Regions from separate parts of the Homo sapiens genome. Here region 2 is linked to region 1. The links come from fine-mapping of genetic effects on gene expression. Tissue or cell type: whole blood. Region 1 holds a variant in brackets; the other region holds the start of a gene. Each region is shown on its reference strand, or each on the opposite one. Region 1 overlaps LOC105373724 (a long non-coding RNA gene). Region 2 holds the start of PARP12 (poly(ADP-ribose) polymerase family member 12).

What was found. PIP is the estimated chance that this variant, and not a neighbour inherited with it, causes the effect. A credible set is the group of variants that fine-mapping cannot tell apart.
Region 2: PARP12 starts here. The variant in region 1 is the best candidate, but not a certain one, in a credible set for the expression of PARP12 in whole blood (TOPMed, PIP 0.78).

Annotation. Positions count from the first base shown.
Region 1 is chr2:162,249,470-162,259,323 of GRCh38, forward strand. LOC105373724 (a long non-coding RNA gene) reads left to right here. Exons shown (of 4, transcript XR_923544.3): 3 at 444-818. Among named protein-coding and RNA genes, the nearest start is that of FAP, 11 kb to the left of the region's middle. The variant A/G (reference allele first, on the strand shown) is at 4,557.
Region 2 is chr7:140,058,057-140,067,910 of GRCh38, forward strand. It overlaps PARP12 (poly(ADP-ribose) polymerase family member 12), which reads right to left and starts at 4,895. Exons shown (of 12, transcript NM_022750.4): 1 at 4,466-4,895. The coding sequence starts at 4,791. RefSeq lists a silencer at 4,503-4,822 and an enhancer at 4,833-5,042.

The DNA of each region.
Region 1 (9,854 bases):
ATCTATCTATCTATCTATCTATCTATCTACCTACCTACCTGTCTATCTCCCATTAGTTCTTTTCTCTGAAGAACCTTGATGAATATGCTCTAATGTATTGAAAATATGATCACCAAAATTTATTTAAATCAAAATAGGTTTTGTGAAATAAAATTGAGGAAGCCTCTCAGAACAGAAAGGCAAAGTTGGATAATATAATGGAAAGTTAAGAGACATAACATATAAACTCAGGAAGTTTGAGGAATAAAGGGCAGAGAAGGCAGAGGGGAAGAGGTTCTTACAGAATGAATGCAAGGGAATTTCCCCAAACTGTAAAAGAAAATACATTTTTCAGGGCCCACAAAATGTCCAGCACAAAATATGAGAAAAGACTTTTACCTAAACACATAATTGTGAAATTCTATAATATTGATTATAAAGATAAATTTTATATTCTTCCTTAGGAAAAAAAAAGTATCATGTGAAAGAAGCAAGAATTGGACTGACCACACACTTGTCATTGCCAATCAGATGCTGCAAAACAATGGATCTGTTTTTCAGAGTTCTGAAATAAAATGCTAATCAAACTAGAATCTGCTTAGCTAAGACACTGCCAAATATGAAGACCAAATAAAAGATTTTCAGATGTGTCATAATTCAGAGTTTATACTCCAAGCATTCTTTTGTAGAAAGGAACTCAAGGGTGTATTTCAGCAAAATAAAGAAGTAAAGTACTAGAGCCATCACTCAGAGAGCAAATGACCAGACCAGATGCTAACAACAAACATTGTGTGACTTCCTATCTCCAGCCACTTCTGAAGTCAGATCTATTTTCTTGAGTAAGTAATTTTTTTCCAAGTTTGGGTTGTTTTTCATACCATTTGGAACCAAGAGTTCTGGTAGTCACAATAATGTTTGGAGATACTAGATGGACTGTAAAAGCAGAATCTCTATGTACGTTCTCCGCTGAACAGCACGGGAATTGGTGCCACAGAGAAAGAAATGTGATCCTACCAAACCAGTTAGCTCAAGAGCAATGCTTAGGTAGCCATAGCAATTTAAACTGTTTATTGATTTAAAATTTTTAGAAGTCACTGAGACCTTTATAGTCAGAGAAATTGTCAACCTTGACAAGTATAAAGGTAAATGTACATGTAACCAAAGTCGGGAAGTGAAAGAGAGTGAAGAAAGGTAGGTAAGGTAGACAGAGGGCAGGAAAGCCCATGTCCTCATCTCCCAAAGCAGGTAGTGAAGAGATCTGCCCTGTGAAGACCAGAATAAGAATTGGAGGTACACTTAACAGTCCCTGCCATGTCATCAACAAATGGTGTTGAGAACACATTGTAGGAAGGGAAATGCTTACATTCATAGAAATACAGAAGCCATATGATTTTTAAATATCATTTCAGAAGTTCAAAAATAAGTCTACAAACTCATGTGATGGATATTAGGTCTATTCCTAAGTAGTCTCATACTATAGATGGAATTTGTGCTTGGCGTCTTTTTCCCTTTTTAGGAACATTTGGTCCACAGTGCAGTTCAAAAAAAAAAAAAAATGGGTAAAGGACCAAAGCAGGCAGTTCATGCAGGCAAACCCACACATTCACAAAAGGTGAAAATATAAAAATAAAAATGTTAAATATTACCAGGAATCAAAGAAATGCAAAATAAAATATCAAAATAGGATCATTTTAATTTGGATTATCAGAGATTAAAAAGATTGGAGAACCACACTGGTAGCAAGGCTGTAGAGAAGTTGGCACTTTCATAATCAGCTGGTGGTAGAAGAAGGACTGAAAACTTTCTGGAGGGAAGTTTACGAGTAAATGTCAAAATTATGCATATTTTTTGGTATAGCAAATCTAACTCTAGGAATGTACTTTAAGGTTAACATTGGATAAATGTACAAAGATGCAAGTTCAAGAATACTTTTTGAAACTTTGTTTACAATATCCAGAAATTAAAACTATTTAAGAATTCATCCAGACAAAATTAGATAAATAAATTATGTAACACATAAAAATGAATGGTGCAGGTCTAAATTGGTTGACATGGAAAATGTCTACATTCTGTTGCTTAGTATATATAATACGACTTTATTTTTGTGGAGGGGAAGAAGGAAATGTTTATGTAGCTGTGTACATAGTGAAAACTCTGGAAATACATGTCTCAGAGCCATGAGTACCAAGGTGGGGCTTGGTGCCATGGTCTGCCCTGGAAGCAGATAAAAAAAGCGGTGCAATGTCTACGGTATATTTGTAAATAGTAGTAATTCTCACTAAAAGTTGGTCTTCTCTTTATTATCACCATGTCCAGAAAATCTAAACTATTTTCAAGATAGAACATTTTTTCCTGCTGAGGCAGATGACTCTACTCCTACCATACCCCTTCCTTGGTGTGCTATTCCATCAGAGGTAAAAAATATGGTATCCCAGTGAGAAAATAAAATTAGGTGAGAGGGCCAGCTAATCAAGAAAGTTATAGAACATATTTCTTTGTGTAAGTAAAAAATATCAGGGTCAAGTATAGGACCTTCCAGTCCTTGCCTGGTCTCCGCTGTGGACTTCCTGGACTCCGTGTCCTCTAGTTTGGCCGCTGGCCCATCAGAGGGAGCCATGCCACAAATGCAGCCTTTTTCTTTCATGAGCTTGAATGATTTTTTTTAAAGTCTTATTCCCATGGCAAGTTTGAATTTTAAAAGAGAATCACTAAAAATGCCATGCTTTAATCTAAAGTAATGAATATCTTAACGGTGGTGAATTTAGGCAGCATGGCTGGCTGATGGGAAAGTTATGTAACTATTTCAGGAAGTAGATTTTAAGGCAGTAAAGAGACTAGGAAAGGAGAAGACAGAAATTTGTGTAGCATATCTTACATCATATCGTCATATCATACTGTTACAATGTGTAAGGCCAGGCCTCAGGTTTTCCAGATATAAATCAGATGCTATCATGAAAAAATTAACTGGCCCTGACTCAAGGTCTGTGTAGTTTTAAGCCCATGCATACATAATGTTTCTTATGTGTCTGGTAGAAGGCACTGGGAAAGAAAAAGAGAATGATAGGAACATAAGATTTATGGATGAAAAAATAATAAAGACATTACCAAAATGGGCTAAGTCCTTGCTCAAATGTTACCTTCTAAATTAGGCCCAATTCCCCATTTAAAATCAGCTCCCCTTAGCTTCCCATTTTTCTGATCTTACTTTCTTCCCCCCCATAGATCTTACCACCATCCAACATCTTAAAACATTTATTATTTTTATTGCTTATTGCCTCTTTTCCCTGCATGGAGCTCCATGAGGGCAAGTACTTTTGTTTGTTTTGCTCATATATCCCAAGAGCTGAGGAACAATGCTTGGCATAAAATAAGTATTTAATCAATATCGTTGCCTGAATGAATTAATGAATGAATGACAGAGAGGATACGGAGCTGTCCTGCGGCCCTCCATGGCCCAGGCTAGACAACACCAAGAGGGAGCACTTCCAGGTGTTACCAGGAAAGGGTCAAGCTCCTTTTTTTTATTAAACAATTAGACGTTAACTATTGTTATCTAAAAATGGGCATTTAATCCTTGTGCTACTGCTTCAGGGTGCCTTTCAAGATAAATTGTAGGTTTTAAAAAAATTGTAATGTGGAGAATTAGTAATAGGAGAGTTTACTGCAGCTATTCAGTTATTTTTCCTGAGAACTGAGGAAAGATTACCAGCTATTTATGAGAAGTATCTGTTTTATGGATTAGTAAATTGAGAATTAGTTGAACTCCATGTCTACTTCCTTTTGACATTTTAATTAGTGAAATTTGAATGAATGCATTATCTAATAATACTGTGTTCCACTGTGATTCTTTTCAGCAATTGTAATTTTTATAAAAATATATAATAGTACTAGAATACTATAATTAATTATAAGAACAATCATTTGATTAAATTCTGGAAATGCTAGAAATCTCGAAAAATCCTTGTGAGGTTCATGTGCCAAAACTGTGGGACTCTTTTTTTATAACAAGTGATTTACCATGCTTTTGGGGGATGACTTGGTATAACATCAATTTTAGTGGCAATGCTAAGCTGATGTAGACAAGGAGTTGTCTGGGGGCCTCTGAGCTCTGCAAAGCCTTTGGGGCCATCTGGACCATCAGGCTGCTGAGGGATTGCGCTTTCCCTCCAATTGGCACAAACTCTGATGCAGCAAGTTCTCCCTTTCATGCTGCCTCCTCCTCCAGACTCATCCTCTGGAAGAAAGCGTCACAGGGGAGGGAGTTGTGAAGAAGGATGGAGGAAGCAGTAGGCAGGAGAAAGGAAAGCCGGGGAAGGTGGACTCTGTGGAACTGCACAATCTGTTCAGGCATTAATTTACTGTCCTATTATGTGACTGCCACTACCATGGGCAGGACTTTGTGTAGCAGACAAGCCCAAGTTTTAAGACAAAGAGTATTTGATCTCCCCACACCCCATCTTTTAAAGCGTTAAAAGACTACTAGTCTGGACTAGACTACCAGTCTAAGGCAGTGAAGAGAGTGTTCTGGGAAAGCAGAGACCCACAGACACCAGCATGGGGTCATAAATATAAAGCCT[A/G]GAAGGGTGGAATTTCCCTGAGGAAGAAGAAAGAAAATGAAGGCAATGATTGCATTAGAAGATGAAGCTACTAATGTCAATGGCAGAACTGCTCAGCATCTCTACCCATGCAGATCAGCCCTGGAGAGTCAGGAAAAGTAAAGACAAGACAGTATTCTAATGGTGTCAATACATGTATGGGCTACCATATTGTGCCATTGATATCTTTTTCATTTGGGGTTATGTTTCTCATGTTTTGACCAATGCAGTTGCTGAACCTGAGTTTTGACTATACCCTTTACTCAGTTGTCACTTTGATCTTTGGGAAAAATATAGGAAAAGAAAGGCAATGGGAGTGAACAGACATGAAGAGCCAGAGGGTCAGAGTACGTCCTAGCCTTGCTCGCATGTGGGGAAGTATAAGACACAAAAATGAATCAGAGCCTTGTTCTGCTTTTCCTCCCTTACTTCAAACACTGCTAATGATTTTGCCTTGGTAAAAAAGAGACTACTTTATATTCTCTTTTAAACTGAGTTCCCTGGAAACAGATTTTGAGATGAAGAGATGCAAACAGAGTCAGCTTATTTTTTTGGAAGGAGTAAGGGGGAGTTGCTCTTACAAGAGACACCTGTAGGAAAGTGAAGGAAACAGCATGGGGCAGAGTGAAATGCTGAACTGCAGTACAGTGTCAAAGGAGGCCTCAGCCAGCCCTTCAGAGACTTCAGGATTTGGACTGTCCCTTCAGAGTTGTCTCAAGTGGAGTAAATGAAACAGACTTATGCCCCTCATCAGTCATTATTTGGCTTCAGGCTACCCTCCAGAGGGCATAGCCTGAGAGGAAATAGTTCCCCACAGCCTAGGACAATACTCGTTAAGAGAGGCAGCTGTGAGCTGTCAGCAGCCATATTCATAGCCCCAGGAAGGTGAGTACCTTGGCCCTGAAGAGGGAATCTTCACAAAGAATCTGTTTTGGTCCATTCCTCTGCTATAACAAAATACCTAAGACTGGGTAATTTATAAACAATAGCAATTTATTTCTCACAGTTCCAAAGGATGCAAAGTCCAAGATTAAAGCACTGGCATTTGGGTGTCTGGTGAGGGCCTTCTTGCTGTGTCTTCATATGACAAAGAGTGGAAGGGCGAAAGGAGCCTAATAGCTGACTCCCGTAAGCCTTTTTATAAGGGCACTAATTCCACACATGAGGACAGAGCCCTCATAGTCTGATAACCTCCTACAGACCCTTCTTAATACTATCACATTGGGTCTTAGGTTCCAACATGTGAATCTTTAGGGGACACACACTTTCAAACCATAGCAGGACCACAGTGTCCATTACGTGGTCTTATAATTAATTGTTTTATGATACAAAGATGGGCGCAACCAGAAAGAGAAGACTTCAAAGAGTTAAGAGAAAAATAAGGGACTTTAAAGCCAGGTAATAACCCTCAAGAAGAAAACTGGGACTTCATATTTAAACAAACTGTGTCTATGTCTTTCTTAAAAAAATGAAATGTCTAGAACACTATCTGGTACAGTAGCCACTAGCCACATGTATCTATTGAGCACTTGAAATGTGGCATGTCCAAATTGAGATGTGCTATAAGAGTAAAATAGCACATCACAACAATTTTTAAAGACTTAGTAGGAAAAAAATTTGAACTATCTTATTAATAATTTTATATTGGTAGCATGTCTATAATATTTTGACTATATTGAATTGAGTTATTAAATTTAATTTTACCTACTTCTTGTGACTTTTTAAAATGTAGCTATTAAAAATTTTTAAATTAGTTGTGTGTATCTCACTATAGTTTTATTGGACAGAGCTGGTCCAGGATAATCTTAAAGTCTGATAAAGTTGTTATCTCAGGCCACAGACTATAGCAGAGTAGAAATGGAAAAAACAACATAATGGACATTCTCGTTATGCAACATTCTCAGTAACACATTTCCCTGGCCTTTCTAAATTGGTAACCTTTTGGGCTCCTCATTTAGCTATTGAGAGGCTGTATTAGCTCAGGCTGCCATGCAAAATGCCAAAGACTGGGTGGCCTGAACAACAGAAATTAATTTTCTCCTCACAGTTCTGGAGGCTGTAAGTCTGAGATCAGGGTGTCAGCATGGTCAGGTTCTGGTGAGGGCTCTCTTCCTGGCCTGCAGACAGCCACCTTCCTACTATATAATCACAAGGTAGAGGGGTGGGGGAGTGGGAGGAGCTCTCTGGTTTCTTCTTCTGCAAGGGCACTAATCCCATCAAAAGGGCCACACCTCATTACCTCATCTAAACCTAATTAACTCTCAAAGGACCCATCTCCAAATACCATCACAGTGGGAGTTAAGACTTCAATATACAAATTTGGAGTTCATAAAAAAAATTCAGTTCAAAACAGAGACCAAAATAGCACCTAGGTCATACCACTAGTTTGCCCTCATTGACAGAGTGGAAATGAGCATAGTAAGTACTCAAGACTCATTATGTTCACTCTTCTAGGAAACCAGAATCTCTGGGAAGTTAAAAGGTTTGCTCTATTCCTATTCAAAAGAGATTCTGACTTGCTTTAAACATTTTCCTCAGGACAAGAGAATTGTATCTGCCATGGCTCAGTGTGGATAGACTATGAAACAGCTGGAGCCCAGTGAGCAAATTTTTGGGTACAATAAAATAGTTATTCCGTATGCCAGGAATATGACTACATGTGGCACTAGTTGATGACCAAGCAGAACTATGAGTCATATTTAGGGCAAAAATAAGGTGATGCGAATAAATTACTTGCATTTGTTTCTATCACCAACTGTGCTATACTTTCATATTTATTTTATTTATTGCCATCAATGTCATGCTAGCCTGCTTTCCCTAGCTCATGATTTTATTTGAACATCATCCAGAGCCACTCATTCCTCCCATTCCCCCTCCCACTGCCAATGACCAAATCCAGATTTTTGTTAACCTCAGCCAGAATGACTGCAACCAGCTTTTTCCTTGATCTTTTTCCTTCCACTTTTTTTCTTCAATCTTTGATTTAGCCCATTAACTCCTTGTAGGTCATCTTTTCTAAAACATGCCATTTCCCTGCTCAAGAATAACTTCATATTAGTTATCAATCAAACCCAGATACAGTATAGCATTCTAGTACACAAGCAAAATGTATTAGGCTTTCTTCTTCTTTCTTGATCTTTATCTCTTTTTGGAAAAAACTTCTTACTCTTTTCCTGTCTTTAAATTATATTAAATATGGATCTAACACCTCATATATGTAAGACATTATTTGAATTATTTATTTATTCTAATTCAGAATCTTTTCTAAAATAATCCAGAACTTCTCTGATTGATCCCTGACTTTTATAAACTCTACAGTGCCTATAATTTGTATACCATGTTGTTGTTGTATGCTTATATTTCTTCTAATAGTTTTATGCCTATAATCATTGGACTCTCAACCAATTTGTTAACTCTCCAAGGTCAGAGATTACATTTTATATCACAAATCAGAAAACGAAATTAATATTTATTGAATGCTTCCTCTGTGCCAGTAACTGTAACATGTGTTCAACATTTGTTATTGAGAAATCTCTGAGTCCACTTTTTTGTGTGTATGCATGCTCTGCCTTCATCATTTCCACATTGCCCTACCAGAGAGCCCTGACTACTCATGCCAGATAACACCAACCCAAGTAAGTAGCAGGTTTACTAGTGTTTTAGGACAATGATGGTGGAATTTCCACTAGTAATTTCTTCTACTTGGGTTCCAGCCTCCTGCCTGTTCCAAGGACTTTGTCTTTCTTCAACATTTTCTTGCTTCCTTTCTAGCTCTTTCTAAATGATCCTGTTTTGTGCAAAACAGTTAAGCTATTTCCTTGATTCATTCCCAGTAGAGTCACAACAAGGTCTCATCTTAAAAAATAAATCCACCCATTAGGGGTTTCTAAAGCAAAGACAGTTTCTCTTTCTGTCTCTCTCTTTCTCTCTCTCTCTAAAACAAAGGCAGTTTAGTTTTTTGCAAGCTATAATTTTTTTATCTACTATGCAAACATTTTCTCATTTAATCCCCCCAACAATCCATTTCACAGCAGCTAGTGATATACATTTATTGCTTACTATGCACCAGGCACTGTTCTAAATGCATTATTCATATTATTTCATTTAACCTGCACTATAAACACAAGACACAGGTCTTGTTATTATTCACATTTTACAGACTGGGATGAAGATAAGCAATTTGTCTAAGAGTAAGCAAAAGAGCTGGAATAAAAACCTAGGCAGTCTGATTCCAGAGCGCAAACCCTTGATGTTGCTGTCCTGGCCCACAGAGAAGGAAACAGACATAAGAGGTTAAGTGATCTTCTGTGGTCACTCAGATGGTGACTAATGTTACTGAAGTCCTTGCTGTGTCCGCCAGGGTCTCATGTACCATTCTTTGCTTTGTTAGGGAAAGCATTGCTGTCCTTCCCTTGTTGCCCTCACTTGGCTTCCCCAACAGGTACTTAACGTAACTTAATTGTGTATATTAAATTCACGGAGATCTGAAGGGGAGGTCAGTACTTTTATAAGACTTATCCTCAATTTCTCCTTTTGTTTGATTTCCTCATATCTTGTCTATCAACAAATCTGCCACCAATATGCCTCTTTTCTAGTCCATTCCATCACTATCGCCCTATTCCACACAATAGACTTGCTTAGTGCCATCTAACTGCTCTCTCTGCTTCTATTTTGTCCCTTTCAACCAATTTGTCAGAGTAGCTGGAGTGTATATCAATTCTTGTCACTCCCTGGATGAAAATCTCCAGCAGCTTCTGATTATCTTCAGACTGAAATCCAGCTCCAGACAGTGGCCAACGGGGCCCTGTGTGAGCTGGCTCTGCCCTTTTTTCCAACCTCATTTTAGGTCATTCTCCTTACTCATCACTCTTCAACCACCCTGGCCTTTTTGCAGTTCCTTGAACATTCCAGGCTTTCTTCACATGGGACTCATGCTATGCAGTTGTTTTTGTCCGGGAAGTCTCTTCCCTCCACCCTTTAAGGTGGTCCTTTTCTTGTTTTCCTCTTCTTGTTTTCCAAGTGACCCTCTAAAATGTCACCTCCATTCAGAGTCCATCCTTAACCTTTATATTCGCTACATGCCATGTCTGTTTCTTATGTAATAGATGGGTAAATAAATGGTGAGTAGATCCACTGGAGAATGGGTATATAAAATAGATGATATTGAACAGATAAATAAGTGCAATGGCTACTAGATCCATTGGAGACATAAAGCAAAAATACATACAATGACTAGAAAACAAGTCTAAGGTAATATGTAAACAATGTTTGCCAGTGTGT
Region 2 (9,854 bases), not on the chromosome of region 1:
TTATATGTCGAATTGAGTCTCCTCAAAATTTCTATGTTGGAGTCCTAACTCCCACGACCTCAGGATATGGCTCTATTTGGAAAGAAGGTCTCTAAAGAGGTAATTAAGTTAAAAAGAGGTCCATAGGGTGGGCCCCAAACCCACAAGACTACTGTCCTTATAAGAAGAGATTTGGCTAAGCACGGTGGCTCATGCCCGTAATCCCAGCACTTTGGGAGGCCGAGGCAGGAGGATCACGAGGTCAGGAGATTGAGACCATCCTGGCTAACACAGTGAAACCCCGTCTCTACTAAAAATATAAAAAATTAGCGGGGCGTGGTGGTGAGCGCATGTAGTCCCAGCTACTCTGGAGGCTGAGGCAGAAGAATGGCATGAACCCGAGAGGCGGAGCTTGCAGTGAGCCACTGCACTCCAGCCTGGGCAACAGAGTGAGACTCAGTCTCAAAAAAAAAAAAAAGAAGAGATTGGGGCACAGACACACACAGAGGGAAGACCATGCGAGGACATGGTGAGAAGGTGGCCATCTACAAGCCAAGGAGAGGGGCCTCAGAAGAAATCAACCCTGCCACCTTGATCTCAGACTTCTAGCCTCCAGAACTGTGACAAAATCGATTTCTGTCGTTTAAGCCTCCTAGTCTATGGTACTTTGTTATGGCAGCGCTGGCAAACTGAAAGCTGATAAAATCAGTCTTCATGACAATTTTTCAGAAACACTTCCTGACAGTATTTACAAGCACCAGAGAAAAACCAGCATGTAGGCTGGGTATGGTGGCTCACGCCTATAATCCCAGGACTCTAGGAGGCCAGGGTGGATGGATCACTTGAGGTCGGGAGTTCGAGACTAGCCTGGCCAACATGAAGAAAACCTGTATCTACTAAAAATACAAAATTAGCCGGGCGAGGTGGTGCATGCCTGTAATCCCAGCTACTCAGGAGGCTGAGGCAGGACAATCGCTTGAACCCAGGAGGCGGAGGCCGTGGTGAGCCAAGATTGCGCCATTGCACTCCAGCCTGGGCAACAGGAGCGAGACTCTGTCTCAAAAAAAAAAAAAAGAAAGAAAAAAAGAAAAACCAGCATGTCTACATGACAACAACAAAAAATCCAATGTGTATTTACCAAGGAGGAGATGGGGCCTTGCAAGGTCTAAGGCCCAGGACAGCGCCTCTGAACAAGCATTTGATGAGAATGACAAAGAGGAGTTGCTGCACAGCAGTCAGTCGGTAAGCAGTTAGCCACAGGCTGAATCAATGAGCATGGCATCTTATCATTATAGGTTACATATGTGCATGCGTGCAGGCGTGTATACACACACACACACACACACACACAGAGCCCTGAACCTAGCTTTTTTTTTTTTGCTCTCTTCCTCCATTCTTTCCATCCACAAGCGTCTGATAAGCACCAGGGTGAGCCAGACATTGGCACCATGCCCTGAGAACCCAAAGATAAACCTTTAAATGACTGCCTGAGTCACCAGGACCCAGAAGAGTCAGGCCAACAGCATTTGTTTGACTCTGGCACTGCCATGCCTCCTATGCCACATCTCAGGAGAATGCCAAACCCTGATCCACCCCAAACCTGCACCTTTTACAGAATCCCCCAGCTCAGTAAAAGGCAACTTCCCTCTCCCACTGCACAGACCAAAAACCCTGAAGCCATCCTTGCCTGCTCTCTTTCCCTCATCTAGCGGAGGTGACAGACATAGAGGAGACTCTGATACGGAGTGGAAAGTGCAACGTCAGCTGTTGTCAGAATCTGTCAGCGCAGAGCGGAAGGGCACCTGAGCCAGTCAGGGCTGGGAGAGAACTGGGGAAGAAATCAGGGGAGCATGCTGGATGGCATAAAGCCTGAGTGGAATACTTAAAGGGTGAGGAGGAGACAGCAAGAGAAAGGAAGAACATTCCAGAAGAGGGGCAAATAATTTGGTGCTGCCAGAGCCAAATATATCTAATAAGTGTAACGATGACTGATGGTAACAATGATAATGACTACTAAAATTTATTGAGCAACTGCCAAATATCGGGGATTGCCAAAATGTTTTATGAGTTAATCATTCAGTCCTCAACCAGCCTGTGAGGGTAGTAATATCATTAACTCCACTTTGCAGATGAGGGAACTGAGACCTGGAGGTAAAGTCACTTGCCCGAAGCCATCAGCTAGCAAGGAGCAGAGCCCAGGTTGAAACAAGGTGGGCTGGATCTTGGGACTGTGCCCTAGACCACCAGGCTCAATGCCTCCTGAGTAGAGGACTAAGAGTCAGGCACCCAGGACTCCGTACCAGCTCTGCAGCAGGACTGATGAGCTATTTCTAAAAGAACTGACCCTGCGGTTCAGGAAGACAAGCAGAGTCACAGGGGAAGCAGAAAAGTGCAGCCAACCACACCCACTCTCCCTAAAGTGAGTCAGAAATGGAAGGTTCAAGAAACTCACCTGTGTAAACCACAAGGAAAAGAGAAAACTGAAGAAAGAAGAAAACTCAAGGTCATCTGAGCCAGTAAATATCACACTACAGATTTCCGAGACAAGTCAGACCTGACCCCACATTTTGGGAACTAGCTTAAGAACAGGGCTGCCATCTTTATTTTACCAAATATGAACATGAAACAGATCTACCAGTTACCCCCATGAGTGGCTCTATCCAGCCACCATTTGCTGTGTGCCTTCCTCCTCGTGGGCTGTTGTTCCCTGCTCTCCCCTGGACTGCCTCATCCCTGAAGGCTGATTTCCCCAGAGTTCCACCCTCAGCCTCTTTTCAGGCCTCAGACGCTACCTCAGATCTGATCCACTCCTGGGGCTGCAACTACAACATACACCGCCCAATATCTCCCAAACCAGCCCAGCGCATTGGGGCCCTGGCCTTCCTCCCAAGCTTCTGACCTGAACAGCTGCCTCCTGGGCATGCTTCCAAACTAAAACCCTCTCTTGCTCTCTCAGTGAACAACACCCAGGCCACCGCAGGAACAGAGACTGAAGAGTCGTCACCTCTCACATATCCTCTCATCACACCGTCACCAGCTATCCCAAATTTCTCACACACATAGCCCTTGGAAAGCTCTAATCTAGATACTTCCAGACAGCTGCTTCCTAGAGGCATTTCCCAGTCACCCTGCATCTAGACAGGGTCACGAGACAGCTTCTGGTCAATGGGATGTGGGTGAAAGGAAATCCACCACTTCTAGACCTGGCCCACAAAAACCTCCCATGCATCCCTCTTTTCGATCAGCCCCCTCGAACTTGATAACCTAGGCTGGCCTCAAGAGCCATGTGCTGAGGGGCACAGAGCGGAGGTCAGTCAGCCTGCATCCCTGAATGACTGTATGGATCAAGGCCCCCACCCCATGCTCACTACTGGGCCTGACATGAGCAAGAAATATCTACTCTATTAAGACAAACATACACACACACACACAAAACAGGGAGCAAGCAAGAAAGGAGGGAGCAGGGGAGGAAGGAATTCTCCTTGATGACTAGCTTCCCAGTGGTTCCCCCACAACATCCTCCCTTAAATTGGCACCCACACCACTACCTTAGACTTCCTAAAACGCAAACCTGATGGTTGCTCTCTCCTGCCATTTTACCCGCCCCATCACCTCCAGGGTGAGGCCCAAATTCTTTAGCATAAACCTCAGCAATCCCTTCCACACATCCCACTGGCCACATGCTATGCACAGAACATGGACGCTAAGTGCTGGGGAGACAGCTGGAGCCTCTGCCCTCAGGGAGTTTCTATTCTACTGGCAGCTGGGTGCCATGAGGAAAATAAACAGTTCCCTGTGACCAAGAGTAAGGGGAGGAAAAATCCTCAAATGGGATGTGATCTTTAGGTTGAGGCCTGAAGGATTAACAAATAGGGCCAACCAAGAGCAAGAAGGGCATTCCAGGCAGAGCAAAGACTCCCAGAAATGCCCAGGCTCCCAGAAATGCCCGGGGGGGGGGGGGTGTTCCAGTCACAGAAGGGTCCTGGGTGGGCAGGGACCAGTGCCCCAGGACCTTGTGGGCGATGGCAGGGAGTCTGCATTTTCCAGTTTGTAAGCAGATTAATAGGGTTGAACTGGGTTTAAAGATCTCTACCAGCTGCTGGGCAGAGAAAACCTTCATTGTCTGGCCTCAAAGCTGGCAAGGGGCGACCCGCGGCGTCGTGGAGTTCCCCTAAGCCGCCGCCTCCCTCCCTCCCCACCCCACACGGCCACACCCGGGTGTTCCACCCGGCACTACCATGCTCTATGTAAATCACTCTCTCCCCCCAGGCGTCTAGAGGACCCCACTCGACCCTGAGTCCCTCGCACTGTGCCAGGTACTCCGCAGGTGCTCATTAAACGCTCGCTTTAGTGAATGACGGTGCGAGGTCAGGGCAGAGCCACCGAATTGTCTGCTCAAACTTCAAGTAGGACCCCCAAGCGGGCTGGAAGTGCGTGAGGGCGCGCAGGACCTCCGCCCGCCGTCGCTCCCGGCGCGGCGCCTTACCCGGCTCTCAGGAACTTGCAGGCGCCGTAGACCATGAACCTGCAGAGGTGGAGCTGCGCGCAGAGCCCCACGCAGCCCGGCTTGGAGCCCTGGTGCGCGCGACACAGGCGCAGCGGCGAGGCGGCCAGCACCACGCGCTCCGGGGCCGCGGCTGCGCCGCCCGCCCGCACCGCCACCACGAAGCGCCCACGCTGCCGCAGCAGCCGCTCCAGCGCGTCGGCGCTCAAGCCCATCCGCAAGCGGCGCCGCAGCTCGGGCAACTCCAGGGCGCCCCCGGCCGCGCACAGCACCTGGGTGACCTCACCGACGACGCCGGCCTGGGCCATGGCCGCTGGGCCTGCTCCCGTCGGACCGCGGGTGGCGCGACGCGGACGGCGGCGGACGCTGGCTGGCGGGCGGCTCTCGCAGGGTGGAGACGCCGGCGGGAAACGAAACCGAAAGCGGCCCCGGGCCGGCGAAAAACAGAACCTGTGCGCCCTCGCCACGCCCCCGGTCCGCAGCTGAGCGGCTGCGCCTTCCGCCTCAGGGCCCCCAGCTGTGAGGCCGCCGCCCGACGGAAGCTCGGGAGCTCTTGAGCTCGGGCGTTCGGCCCGGAGCGCGGGCTGTGGCTGTGGCGGCTCGCGGGGGTCAGTACCTAGTCCCTGAAAATGGCTTCCCTGGATGTTTGAGGGACCAGGAGCCCCTAATGCCGCGATGCTCAGCGCGCCTTCAGTCAGAGGGAGCCTCGAGGGCGGCGGCAGCGCTGGCGGAGCCGGCTGGACGCCGCCGGTTAAAGCCGCTCAGCGTCGCCCAGGCCAAGCCCGGGCTTCGTAGACGGCTCACAGAAACAGGGACAACTGACGGGAGCTCTCACCCCTCGAACAAGTGACAAAAGCGATCACTCCGCATAGAAGACGCACTTAATTAAAGGTTCCTTTCGCCTCGGTGCATCAATGAGTTCCTTCATTTAAACATAAAAGGGTATGTCCTTTAAAAGAGCAAATCCGTGAGCCGAGATTGCGCGACTGCACTCCAGCCTGGGCGACAGAGCGAGACTCCGTCTCAAAAAATAAAATAAAATAAAATAAAATCCGTTACTCCCAGCCCCTGCTAAGTAACGATTGAACAAATATTTTAGAAGACCCTTCAGAGCAAAGGACCCTCTCACACGCTGAGAGCAATGCGAGTTGTTAGAGCCCTTTGAGGAGGTAATCCAGGAATAGCTATTAAAATTGAAAACGCGTGTGACCTTTGACCCAGCAATCTTTCCTCTCGGAATCTTCCAGAAGTAAAAGGAACAGTAAATAAGTTATGTGTGAAAGTGTTACTGGGGGAACCCTACCTGGGAGGTAGGGTTACGTGGGAACAGTGTGGTTGATCTTTAAAGACTATTACGAAGGCTGTTTAACAAGCATGCGTTAGAGCTCCGTGTGCGGATGTAGAGGGGCAGACAGCCATGATGTGGTGGTAAACGAGAAAAGATGGCTGTACAGAAATGTCTAAATAATCAAGTTGAATGATCAAGAATTAATTTTTTTAAATGTCTGAATAACAAAAAGAGAAGCCTGTGTGTGTGTGTGTGGCAGGATATTTTTGAATAAGCACGGAGAAAGATGAAGAAACACACAAGGGTAGTTGAGAGGAGGCAGTAGGAGGTATTAGGAAAATGGAAAAGGGAAGATGAGAGGCAGAAGGATTGTGGGGGGAGAGTACTTACGGTATACGGTATAACATTCACTAAAAATGAATATAAAAATCTTAACTATAGGCCAGGCACAGTGGCTCACGCCTGTAATCCCAGCACTTTGGGAGGTCAAGGCGGGCGGATCACTTGAGGTCAGTAGTTTGAGACCAGCCTGGCCAACGTGGTGAAACCCCGTCTCTGCTAAAAACGTAAAAATTAGCCGGGCGTGGTAACGGGCGCCAGTAATCCCAGCTACTCGGGAGACAGGCAGGAGAATCGCTTGAATCCGGGAGGCAGAGATTGCAGTGAGCGGAGATCATGACACTGCACTCCAGCCTGGGCGACAGAGTGAGACTCCATCTTTAAAAAAAAAAAAAAAATTACCTGTACTATTACTACAAAAATGTAAATAATAAGTGTATGGATAAAGACTAGATAGTAACATGGACAAATGAAAATGAATTTATTTAATTAGGAAATTGAATGAAGGGTTTTCTCTTGGATTTTAATTGTGATTTTAATGTTTTCATTGTATAAAATGTTAATTTTGTTTTTGTTATTGTTTTAGAGACAAGGTCTTGGTCTGTCACCCAGGCTGTAGTATAATGGTACAGTCATAGCTCACTACAACCTGGAACTTCTGGGCTCAAGCGAACCTTCCACCTTAGCCTCCCAAGTAGCTGGGCCTAGAGGCACGTGCCACCATGCCCAGATAATTTTTATATTTTTTTGTAGAGACACTGTCTCATTTGTTGCCCAGGCTGATCTTGAACTCCTGGCCTCAAGCAGTCCTCCCACCTCAGATTCCTAAAGTGCTGGGATTACAGTGAGCCACCACGCCTAGCCTAAAATGTTAATTTTTAATTTAAAATGTTAGGCAGAGTGCAGTGGCTCACGCATGTAATCCCAGCATTTTGGGAGGCCGAGGTGGGTGGATCACTTGAGGTCAGGAGTTCAAGACCAGCCTGGCCAACTTGGTGAAACCCCATCTCTCCTAAAAATACAAAAATTAGCCAGGTGTGATGGTGTGTGCCTGTAATCCCAGCTACCTGGGAGGCTGAGGCAGGAAAATCGTTTGAACCAGGGAGGCGGAGGTTGCAGTGAGTCAAGATCGCACCGTTGCACTCCAGCCTGGGCAACAGAGCAAGACTCCGTCTCAAAAAAAAAGTTAATTTTAGTTGTGGTTTCCATATTTTTTTGCAATAAAATAACATTTTTTAAAAAAGAAAGGAAGAGTGATGTCAGTGAAAATGGTGGATTAAGTATCCCAGCAAGTTTGCCCTTCCATAAAGGAAGCAAGGAAAGAACTGACAAAAATTGTCAGAATCAACTTTCTTAGAGCCCTAGAAATTAGTCACAGGTTTGCAGCAACCCATCTGGCATTTAGTCAGGAAAAACAGCAAACTCTCAGTAAGAACAGCAATATTTATAGTATTTTAATTTACCCTAGTCCTATCGCACCCCCATCTCTAGTTCCATGGCAGCCTTGAAAACTTACAGCCCACGTTCCTAGTACCTGTACCAGAGGGAGGAGACAGGGCTGGAGCTACTTCAAAGTCTCATTCCCAAAGAAGAGTCATTATTTAACCTATCTAGTGGGTCCCTGGAAAAAAATCCTGAAAAGGGTTGTCTTTATTCAACCTCTTTGGAACTAGCTCAGTCCTAAAGGTTTTTCCACCTGAAGAGGGAGTGATTTGTCAAATATTTTAACATTGTAACTGGCTGAGGCAATAGGTAACGGTAGGGGCAAACAATAGACTAACAAAGAAATGTAAAAGGAAACGTTGAAGGAAGAGATGTCCATAGGGGCTTTGAAAAGCTCCAGTATATTTTCAGGAATTTAGAAGGCCATGTGCATGTGTAGGGCTGTGCACATGCTCTGTTAACACCTGAGAAGATCCTAACCTCTCACTACTAGCTGACACTGAGGCTCTGTGCTAGCAGGAAATAAAAGCTATGCAGAGTTGCAAACTGCCTAATGAAAATTGAAGACATACCCCAAAGTGCATACAGAGCCCCTTGGCAAAGACTAGGAGACATATTGGTTCCAGGTGTTTAAGGAAATCTCCATCTAATCATTAGTTGACCAAGTAGAGACTTCAATAGTCACACACAATGAAGATACACACTTTAAAAAATTAGTTCAAAAAAGTTACTAAACAGCAACTATTAGGTTGGTGCAAACCGCAATTATTTTTGCACCAACCTAATACTAAAATAAGCACAATCAAACCCTGAGGAGAGAGGAGTATCTGACTTTGAGAGTTGGCACATTGTTTGAAATGTCCAATTTTCAACTAAAAATTATGTGACTTGCAAAGAAACAAGAAAGTAAGACCCATACAAAGGAAATAAGAGCAATCAATAAAAACTGTTCCTAAGAAAACCCAGATGCTGAACTTTGTAGACAAAGAGTGTAAATCAGCTATTTTTGATATGTTCACAGAGCTAAAGGAAACCATCTCTAAAAATGTAAAAGAAAGGATGAGAATGATGCCTTGCCAAACAGAATATTAATAAAGACACAGAAATTATAATAAGGAACCAATAAAGGTTCTGGAGCCAAAAAGTACAATAACTGAAATGTTAAATTCACTAGAAGGGTTCAGCAGCAGATTTGAGCATGCGAAAGAAAAAAAAAATCAGCAAACTTGAAGATAGATCAATTGATGATTATCTGGTCTGTGGAACAGAAACGAAAAAGAAAAATGAAAAGAGCCTCAGAGACCTGTGGGACACCATCAGATATACCAATAACACAAAATGGAAGTCTTAGAAGGAGAAGAGAGAGAGAGAAAGGAAAGCGAGAATATATGAAGAAATTTTGGCTAAAATTTCTCAGATTTGATGAAAAACATTAATCTACACATCCAAGAAGCTTAATGAATTCCAAGTAGGAAAAACTCAAATAGATCTACACCTAGACACATCATAATCAAACTTTTGAAAACAAAGAGAATCTTGAAAGCAGCAAGAAAGTAGCAACTCATCATGCACAAGGAATCAACAATAAAATAAAAACAGTTAACTTCTCATCAAAAACCATGCATGCAGAGGGTAGTGTGATGATGTATTCAAAATGTGAAAAGAATCAACCAAGAATTTTATATCCAGCAAAACTATCTTTCAGAAATGAAGGAGAAATTAAGATATTCCCAGATAAACTAAAGCTGAGCCCGTTAGTTGCTAGCACTGGGAGAAACACTAAAGAGAGTCGTTTGGGCTGAAAGTGAAAGACACTAAACAGCAACTGGAATTCTCATGAAGAAAGAAAAGCACCAGTAAAGGTAACTACACAGGTAAATGAAAAAGACAGTATAAACGTATTTTTTGTTTGTAACCCCCATCATCTGATTTAAGACAACTACATAATGCAGTAATTACAAATATAAGTTGATGGACAATGTTTTGAAGATGTAATTTGTGACAATAACAGCAGAAGGAAATGGGGAAGGAAAGTGAAGCCATAGAGAAGCAGTTTTTATATTCTGTGGAAATTAAATTGGTATTAATCCAAACTGGATTTTTATAAATTAAGATGTTGCTGGTAATTCCTAGTGCAACCAATAACCAATAAAATACATGAGGCCGGACACAGTGGCTCACGCCTGTAATCCCTGCATTTTGGGAGGCCGAGGCGGGTGGATCACCTGAGGTCAGGAGTTCGAGACCAGCCTGGCCAACATGGTGAAACCCCATCTCTACTAAAAATACAAAAAATTAGCC